2 separate regions of the Homo sapiens genome follow, and region 2 is linked to region 1. Evidence: fine-mapped expression QTL. A gene starts in region 1. The other region holds a variant in brackets. All regions are shown on one strand. Distances are between the middles of the regions.

Evidence for each region. PIP is the estimated chance that this variant, and not a neighbour inherited with it, causes the effect. A credible set is the group of variants that fine-mapping cannot tell apart.
Region 2: its variant is the best candidate, but not a certain one, in a credible set for the expression of MFAP3L in thyroid (GTEx, PIP 0.69).

Annotation. Positions count from the first base shown.
Region 1 is chr4:170,024,270-170,028,662 of GRCh38, forward strand. It overlaps MFAP3L (microfibril associated protein 3 like), which reads right to left and starts at 2,126. Exons shown (of 3, transcript NM_021647.8): 1 at 1,965-2,126. RefSeq lists silencers at 1,934-2,023, 2,104-2,503, 2,962-3,031 and enhancers at 2,503-3,222, 3,212-3,351.
Region 2 is chr4:169,953,727-169,958,119 of GRCh38, forward strand. The region is part of intron 1 of LINC02275 (long intergenic non-protein coding RNA 2275); the gene reads right to left. Among named protein-coding and RNA genes, the nearest start is that of LINC02275, 20 kb to the right of the region's middle. The variant A/G (reference allele first, on the strand shown) is at 1,990.

The DNA.
Region 1 (4,393 bases):
GAGAAAATACTTAGGATTTGTACTTAGGATTTGTGGATCGAGAAGGGGGCCTATTGATCTGTATTAAACCTCACATTCACAAAAAGTAAACTGAGGCCTTGCTGCTTCCTCCAGGTCAGGAAGAACCCAAGGCTAAGGGGAGACTCTAGCTACTTCTACTGGGGAATGTCACCTGAGGATATGAGACCTGCTGTTCAGGATAAGGTGTACATGCAGGCAGTACTTCATGAAAGATTTTAAACTTGATGCATTTTTATAGAAAAGAGAAGCACAATTATTCAATATTTGTGTTGGAGTTTTCAAACTTATTTTTCTATAAATGTATTTAGAAATAAATTTAGGATGAGTGAACATCACCAACCAGACTATTTGGCTAAAATGGGGGACTGCAGGTTCTAATTCATAAAAATGGTAATCATGTTGTTGCTACTGCTGTTGTCTGGATGTTTCAAGCCTTTCCTATTATTAAACCTCGGTTATGCAGCATCACAGGACAGAGCCAACTCTATACTGGGGGAAATCACCCCAGAGAGTATCCAGAATTAGAGCTGGAGCCATCTCAGGCTTGCAAGCAAGCACCAACCTTAAAGCCTACCCACAACTCAATGAAAAGTCAATGCATTTCTAAAGTCTATTAAGGTCTATAAAGAATGTAAACAATTGTTTTGTAATAAGCTTAATGAATAAAACAACTGAACCCACTAAGTGGTACTTATAGAAAAGAGGCTTGAGAATTTAGCTTTAGTTAGCAGAACTAGTTCCCACTAGAACAGGATTGTTTATCTTGCCCCTATTAGATACAATAATCCTAATAGTGTTAATGGTACTAAATGTTTTAGGAATAAACAACTGTAGAAACCACACTGGGACCTACAAATTGCACTTTCTGTGTAAGTAAAATGTCAGAAGAACTACACTGTTATAACTTACGGTCTCATGAAACGACATTTTTTTCCATCTTGTATTTCATCTTGAAGGATTTTACTATGTTCAGCATAGTAGCAACTGAAAAAAATGTGTTTCATCTAGAAACAAAAGTGAGAAAACTACAAAAAACACTGAGCTTCTGCAATGCTCGGTTTCCAAGTTTTTAACATTAAATCGAAGATAACGCAAAATAAAGATTGCCACAGTAACCAAACTTTTCTGCTAAGTATCCTTAAAAATAATGACAGTTCGATCGTATCTTAACTGTTTTCTACAATGTGAGCAGATAATACACCTACAAACCTTTTTTTGCTACCTTGCTTTATAAAGCTTGCAAGTTTTTTTTTCAGGGCTGGAGAAGACAGCTTAATGATCAAGCTTAAAATAAATCGGTTCTGCAATCACTCTGTATTTTAATCCGATGAAGCACGTTTCCCCATTCCACGCCATGAAGCAATTCGATGTCAACTTGTTATGGAGTCAAATGCGACAAACTCCGAGAGCTTCAGTAGCGAGGCGGCGGCTCGCAGCACCCACAGCCGCCCGCACTCCTGCGGCATCAGGACACGGCGCCCTCCCGACGCGGAACCCGCATTCACGTTCTCCGGAGCCCTGGCCAGCGCACGCTCCTCCCTGTCCGGGTAAACTGAGGCACAGCGATGAGAGAGATCCAGAGCCCAGCGAAAGCCCCCACGGCTGTTCGGCGTCCCCTTCCCCCACGACACCTAGGAGGCTCGCCGGCAGCTGGCAGTGGATTCCGCGCTCCTCGCCCTCGGAAGGTTACGGTTCGAGCCCAGGATGCGGCAGTCCCCAAACGGCCAGCCCCCGCCCCGCACGGATCTCGAAGCATCCTGCGACCCCCTGGAGCCCGCTGCCCGGACCCTGCGGCGTCTCGCAGCGCAGCCTCCGCCGCAGTCTCAGCCAGCCCAAACACCCGAAAGTTCGGCGGCCCCGGCGCCGACTCGGCCGCCGACCCGGTGCGGGGCTGGCTCCCACCCGTGCCCCTCCGCCCCGGCCCGCCGGGGGCCCCCGCTAACCTGACACCGCCGCGCCACTCAGGTGGCCGCCGTGCACCCCTCGCCATGGCCAGCCCGACAGCGGCCGCTGCGCCGCACTCTGCGCCGGACGCCCGGTAGCGCCTACTGCGGGCGAGCCGCCTCCGCCGGCGCCTCACAGCGTTGCGAGCTGCGCCGCCGGCTGCCGGGAGCGCGGAGCTTCCCACCTACAGGAGCCTGGGCCGGCCGGGGCCGAGCATGCCCAGTGCGGCTCGCCGGGCGGCGCGGAGGCGCGGGTGTAGCCGCCGGGTTTTCGCGGCAGCCGCGGGCGGGGGCAGCGGGGCGGGCGGTGCGGCGCGAGCCAGTCGGTGCTGCGGAGCGGCCCCGCGGAGGAGCCACCGGAGGCTGTAGTTGCCGGGGAGTCCCGCATTCAGTCCGCTCAGCCTCTGGGCCGGGCCTCGGCGGCCCCCAGAGCCCCACACCCGCAGGCCCAGGGCCTCCGCGGCAGCGCGGGACTCTCACTCCGCTCTCTCTCCCGCCCGGGGCTTCCACCGCAACTTCTGTGGGCGTCGCATCGCACGCGTGTTCAAGGACACCCAGGAAAAGGCTTCTTAGGGTCCCATCCTGGGGCGCTAAATGGGAACCAGTCAACCCACCCCCAAGCCTACCCTGTCTCCTTGCAATCAAATGCAATCACGAGCAAACCACCTTGCTTCCGAAAGCTTCTCAGGCCTTCCCGGGCGACTGCGCTGTAAGTCTTAAACGTCTCTTAAAGCAAAGTCCACAGATGGAAGAGTCTGGAAAAAAACCCAGCGGGCCGTTCCCTGGTGACTTTCTGAGTGGTGGGGTTCCAGGAATTTTTTTTTCATTTTCTTTAAAAATATTATTTGTAATTTCCACGTTTTTTCTAATGAACCATAAGTTGATTTTTTAATTAAAAAGTAGAGTACTCTAAAATTATTAAGTACCTACAGAAGTTTCGCTACACGATCCTGCAATGTTAGTGGCTTCTTCTCCTCCTTATCTCCCTTTTTTTTTTTTTTTTTTTAATTTTAAAAGAGAACAGAGACTCTCAATTTCTGGGGCGGGACCAGGCTCCTTCCCCCGGCTTTTTAGTGCCCGCCCTCTTGGCCACACCCCACTCCGGCCTTTTTACTCCCGTACCGCCCTCTTCCCGGTGGGTTGCTGCGAAAACCCGGAAAGGTGGACTTTCCACATTGACGCTCCCGGCGGCTCCGGCAGCCAGACTGGGCATGTTCCGCCGCCGGGTCAGGCATTGCTGTGCCAAGAGAGGAGCTTTAGCAACTCTCAGTCTCTCTGCTCCTCTCTGTTCCTGGCAAACTGGCAAAGTAGTGCCTCTGACCCCACGCCCCGAGGTCGGACCTGCAGAAGTGGGTCAGGACCCGACTGAGCATGCTCCGGGCAGTGCCAGGCTGCCGCACGCGGCTGCATCTGGTTGCCCAAGGTTGATGTAGCCGCGGTCTCTCGTCACGACATCGAAGCTCGGGAAACGGATGGAAGCAGGGCTCTAGAGAGGCACGATTGCATCGACACGTGGGCAGGTCGCCCATGCCAAGGGCCATGTTGGTGGGTGGGTGCGTGGGATCTGTCGTATGAGTGAGTCAAAGCCTGATTTTTTCCCCCAAAAAGATTGAAATGAGATATCATATTTTAACATTAGTTTTATGGCATCTTGAATAGCAACACATTTTAGCTCAAGGAATTTTTCAGCTGTCCTTTTGAGAAACGTAAATTTTCTTTGTTTTTAAGTATTTAATAAGCATTCTTTACAATTGCACCACAGCGCGAACTTTCCACCTGCTTTATTAATTATGACATTTGTGTCCCCACTATTAAAATATTCCGCAGTATTATATCCCGTTTTCTTCTCCAGCATTTCTGCATTCACTCTGACTCTATTTCCTCCCCTCCCCCATCTCTTTTAAATTCTCAGACAACCTGCAAAATGCACTCTTGCTATCTTAGAAACCACTTGAGGTCGGTGTGGGGAACTTGCTTTTAATTCTCATTTAGAGAAGACAGTACTGAAATGGAGAAAAGTCACAGGGAAAGTACTTTTACAGATTGTAGATTAGTAAAGAACCCAAAGAGAGCCTTTCATTGAGAGCAGAAAGGCGAATGGAATTCGCTGTTTTCTGTCTAAGGAGGAGGAGGATGGGCAGGCAGGTCAGCTGCCCAGTGGGGCTTGGTGTGATAGTGGGAGTCACCCTTCATTTGAACCTCTCTGCCTTGCCCAGCTCCAGTTCAGCTTCAGCGTGGTCAGAGACACTATCTCTATGGAAGGTCACTCCTGGAAGAATACATTTACTTAGCTGCTTCCACCATGGAATCCTAGCTTGTGCTGGAGTGTCCCCTTCATCCTCCTCCTGTGCTTTGAGAATCCATTGTTGCTGGTATGCCCTGAGCAGTGCCCTTGAACTTGCCCAGGTACCCCTTGACATCCACACCAC
Region 2 (4,393 bases), 71 kb before region 1:
AGCACACCTAGCTAATTTTTAAAAAGTTTTTTGTAAAGATGGGGCTCACCATGTTGCCCAGGCTGGTCTCAAACTCCTGGCCTCAAGTGGTCCTCTAGCCTTGGCCTCTTAAAGTCCTGGGATTAGAGGTGTGAGCTGCCATGGCTGGCCAAAATTTTGGTGTATAGATTAGGAGATGGACTGTAAAGAAGGGTGGTCATTTGAATAAATGATTCACAGGAGAAAACGGGTTTTACTGTAACAACCAAAGCCTACCAATATTGAGTTTCCTTATTCATTATGCATGTTATTAGGGTATTTTTAGCTCCAGCATTATGATTTTGCAAGTAAAATAAACTTGGGGTGAACGTTGATGCGGCCCTAAGTATCTTACTTCACTGAATTGGAATTCTACTCAGATTAGTCTTAGTAGATCTTTCTTTCTTCCCTGCTAATATCCGGGAAGCAAAGAAAAAGAGATTTCTTGAAGTATAACCTATTAGAACTTGCATAGAGGCATGGCGAGCAAAGGTTTTATAGAAATACCTGCAGATGTTTGGAGCTGTAAGAACACAGTGCTTGAGGATGCTGACCCTGTGGTGGGATATAACGTTGAGTGCCTTTTCCCAGACCCAATATCATTAAATCCTGCATAGACGGGGAACCCAGAAACCATCATCTCTCCATGCTCCAGAGCCCTGCAGAGACAACTGAGGTTTCTGGATGAGTTTATTTCTAAATACAATAGGGAAGAGGTTATTCACACAGAGATTGTCACCAATATGATTATAGGTCCCCAATTTTTTATTATACATGGCAATAGACCAGACACTCTGAAGATCTTATTATTTCCAACTTGATGTTTAGGATAGCATGGCAGATTGTATTTTCCAAAGATACCTACGGTAATATCTCCGAAACCATGTGGTCTTCTGCAATGGGACCTTGTCACGTCTCCCTTGAATGTGAGCAGGATCTGTGACTCCTTTAACAAACACAACATGGTGGAAATGATGCTGTGCCATCTGGCCTGGAAGCTTCCTGCCTCTTGGTTCCCTCTGACAAGCCAGTTGCCACTTTGGTGAGAGGCCCCAGTCACATTGAGAGGCTATGTGTGGTTGCCCTGGTCAACACCCAACTGCCAGCATCAACTGCCAGCTATGTAGCGAGCTCTCTTGGACATCTAGCCCAGTCAAAGCCTTGGGTGACTGTCACCCCAGCCAGCATCTGACGGCAACTTCAGAGAGAACCCAGATGAGAACTGCTCAGCTGAACCCCATCATCCAAAAAACTGTGAGAAATAGCAGTGAGTTGTTGTTTGAAGCCATGAAGTATTTTGAGCTGTAATCCATACACTATAAAATTTATCTTTTTCAGGTGTACAATATACAGAGCTATAACCATCACCATTCTCAGTTAAAGAACATTCTTGACCAGTCGCCGTGGCTCACGCCTGTAATTCCAACACTTTGGGAGGCCGAGGCGGGTGGATCACGAGGTCAAGAGATTAAGACCATTCTGGCCAACATGGTGAAACCCCGTCTCTACTAAAAATATAAATGTTAGCCGAGTGTGGTGGTGGGCACCTGTAGTCCCAGCTACTCGGCAAGATGAGACAGGAGAATCACTTGAACCTGGAAGGCAGAGGTGGCAGTGAGCTGAGATTGCACCACTGCACTCCAGCCTGGTGACAGAGCAAGACTCTGTCTCAAAAAAAAAAAAAAAAAAAGAACATTTTTATCACTTCCCAAAAATGAAACCCCCTGGCCAGCAGCAGTCACCCCCCACCTACCCACCCCCTAGTCTCTGGAAAGGACTAATCTACGATGCCCCTGAGGGTTTGCCTATTCTGGACACTTTACTGTTTGTTTTGTTTTGTTTTTGAGAAAGAGTCTTGCTCTGTCACCCAGGCTGGAGTGGAGTGTCATGATCTTGGCTCACTGCAACCTCTGCCTCCTGGGCTCAACTGATTCTCTTGCCTCAGCTTTCCAAGTAGCTGGGATTACAGAC[A/G]TGCCCCACCACACCCGGCTAATTTTTGTATTTTTAGTGCAGACATGGTCTCACCATGTTGGCGAAGCTGGTCTCAAACTCCCGACCTCAAGTGGTCTGCCTGCCTCAGCCTTCCAAAGTGCTGGGAACACAGGCGTGAGCTACTGCACCTGGCTGAATTCTTCTTATGTCACAGCCTACAGACAGGTTAATGACCAGTTTCTTCTTGGCCCACCACCATCCATCGTGTGGTCTCCCAGGCACCTTCTCATCCCAGAAAAATCCCATCTCCCACTTATATGGTTCACATATAAATTCCTCCACCAATCCTAATCTGAGTCTTTGATTTCAGTTCTGGGTAAATTTCATGTGTACTTTAATCTCGGCCCCTTTACATGGCTTGTTGATTTATGCGGCTTCTTGAAATGCTGTTTACAAAGTTAGACCCTTGAAAAGTGGCATAATTGGTTTGCATGTGAAAACTAAATCAAGATTCACCTCAAACCCAACAAAATAAATGAAGACAGAATGAAGCTTTTGCCTGGCATTTAGCAGGGCTGGCACAGATTTTTCCTCTATAGCACATGGAAGAGCAAGTGAACAGCATTCCCTGAAGTCTCACCAGGAGCTCTAAGCTCCAGAGTGAAGCCAAATCAGGCTGCTAACCCGACGGAGAAAACTTGGTGTGAATATACATATATATGTCACATATCTGTGTGAGCATATAATATGTATCTATATATAGTCAGCTAAAGCTGGCAATGAAAACAAAAACTCTACTTTCTTGGCTTACTCAAACTGCATAAAAATAGTGTTTAACAATCAAGGAAGAATGTGCAAGCCACTGCTGGTTAAAGGATGTGTGGCTATCCCATGAAAGAACCTATTAAGAATCCTACAGGCTTACTGCTGGCTTGGTTTGGAAGCCAGAGGCCAGCTCTCTGTCATGTTCTGTGCTAATTCAACAGGAATGACTTCAAGGAGGGTTTTATGTTCAGGCATGATTTATGTGGCAGGGAAGAATAAAGGGATTCCTGTAAGCTAGCCCAAGTTAGGGGATCTCTTTGAGTGATTAGTCCAATAAATACGTAGATGCTGGTGAGGCTGGGGTGAGGAGTCTGGGGAGAACAAATGCACACAAAATGCGTGTGCACACTCACGTGACGTGTGTTAAATGTATATGCAGATATACAAGCACTGCCAGCCATTGTATGGGTTTTTGAGAATCCATGGAGTTTGAGGCACTGGATAAAAATTTCTAGTGATTATAAGTTTAAATTACAATTTTAAAATTTAAAAATTTTTTTAAATCTATTTTTTATTTTTTTGAGACAAAGTCTGGCTCTATCGCCCAGGCCAGAGTGCAGTGGCACGATCTCAGCTCACTGCAACCTCTGCCTCCTGGGCTCAAGCGATCTTTCCCCCTTAGCCTCTAGAGAAGCTGGGACCACAGGCGTGTACCACCACACCCACCTAATTTTTGTATTTTTTTTGGTAGAGACAGGGTTTCACCATGTTGCCCACCCTAGTCTTGAACTCCTGAGCTCTAGCCATCCACCTGCCTTGGCCTCCCAACATGCTGAGATTACAGGAGGAAGCCACTGTGCCCGGCAATGTAAGTTATATTATAATTTTAAAATAACTTCATCTAATATTATTTGACATCTATATATTCAAATATAGACAAACATATATGACAAACATATTTATTTGACAAACATATATGAAGCATCTGTCATGTGCCAGGCACCATGGTTGGCAGTAGGTATACAAAGATGAATAAAGCAGACTTCCTGCCTTTGGGGAGCTTGCAATCCATTGAGCAGGACAAATAAAATTATTCTGCAATGTAATCAAGGGCTATAATGTTGGCATAAACCAAGTCTTTTTTTTTTTTTTTTTGATACAGGGTCTTGCTCCGTTGCTGAGGCTGCAGTGCAGTGGCATGATCTCAGCTCACTGTAACCTCTGTCTCTGGGTTCAAGTGATTCTTGTGCCTCAGCCTCCCAAGTAGCTGGAATTACAGGCGTAAGCCACTGTGCTCGGCCTAAACAAAGTCTTTTGGAATCATAGAAAATTGTTCCAGTTACTTTCACTGTGTAACATATTAGCCCAAGACTAACTGGCATAAAGCAATTATTTTATTATTCTCCTAGACTTGGTGGGTTAGGAATTTGGAGAGGGCACAGAAGAGACAGAGAAGAGATGACTTTTTTCTGTTTCATGATGTCTGGGACCCCAACTGGGAAGACACAATGAGCAGAACTGCTGAGTGGAGTGTGTGCACATGACTCCCCACAGAGCCAGGCTTCCTCACAGCATGGCAGCCTCAGGCTCCAAATGCGTGTATCCCAGCAAATAAGGCGAAAGCCACATCACTTCTTATGACTCAGCCTCATAAAACACTAGGATCACTTTTGCAATA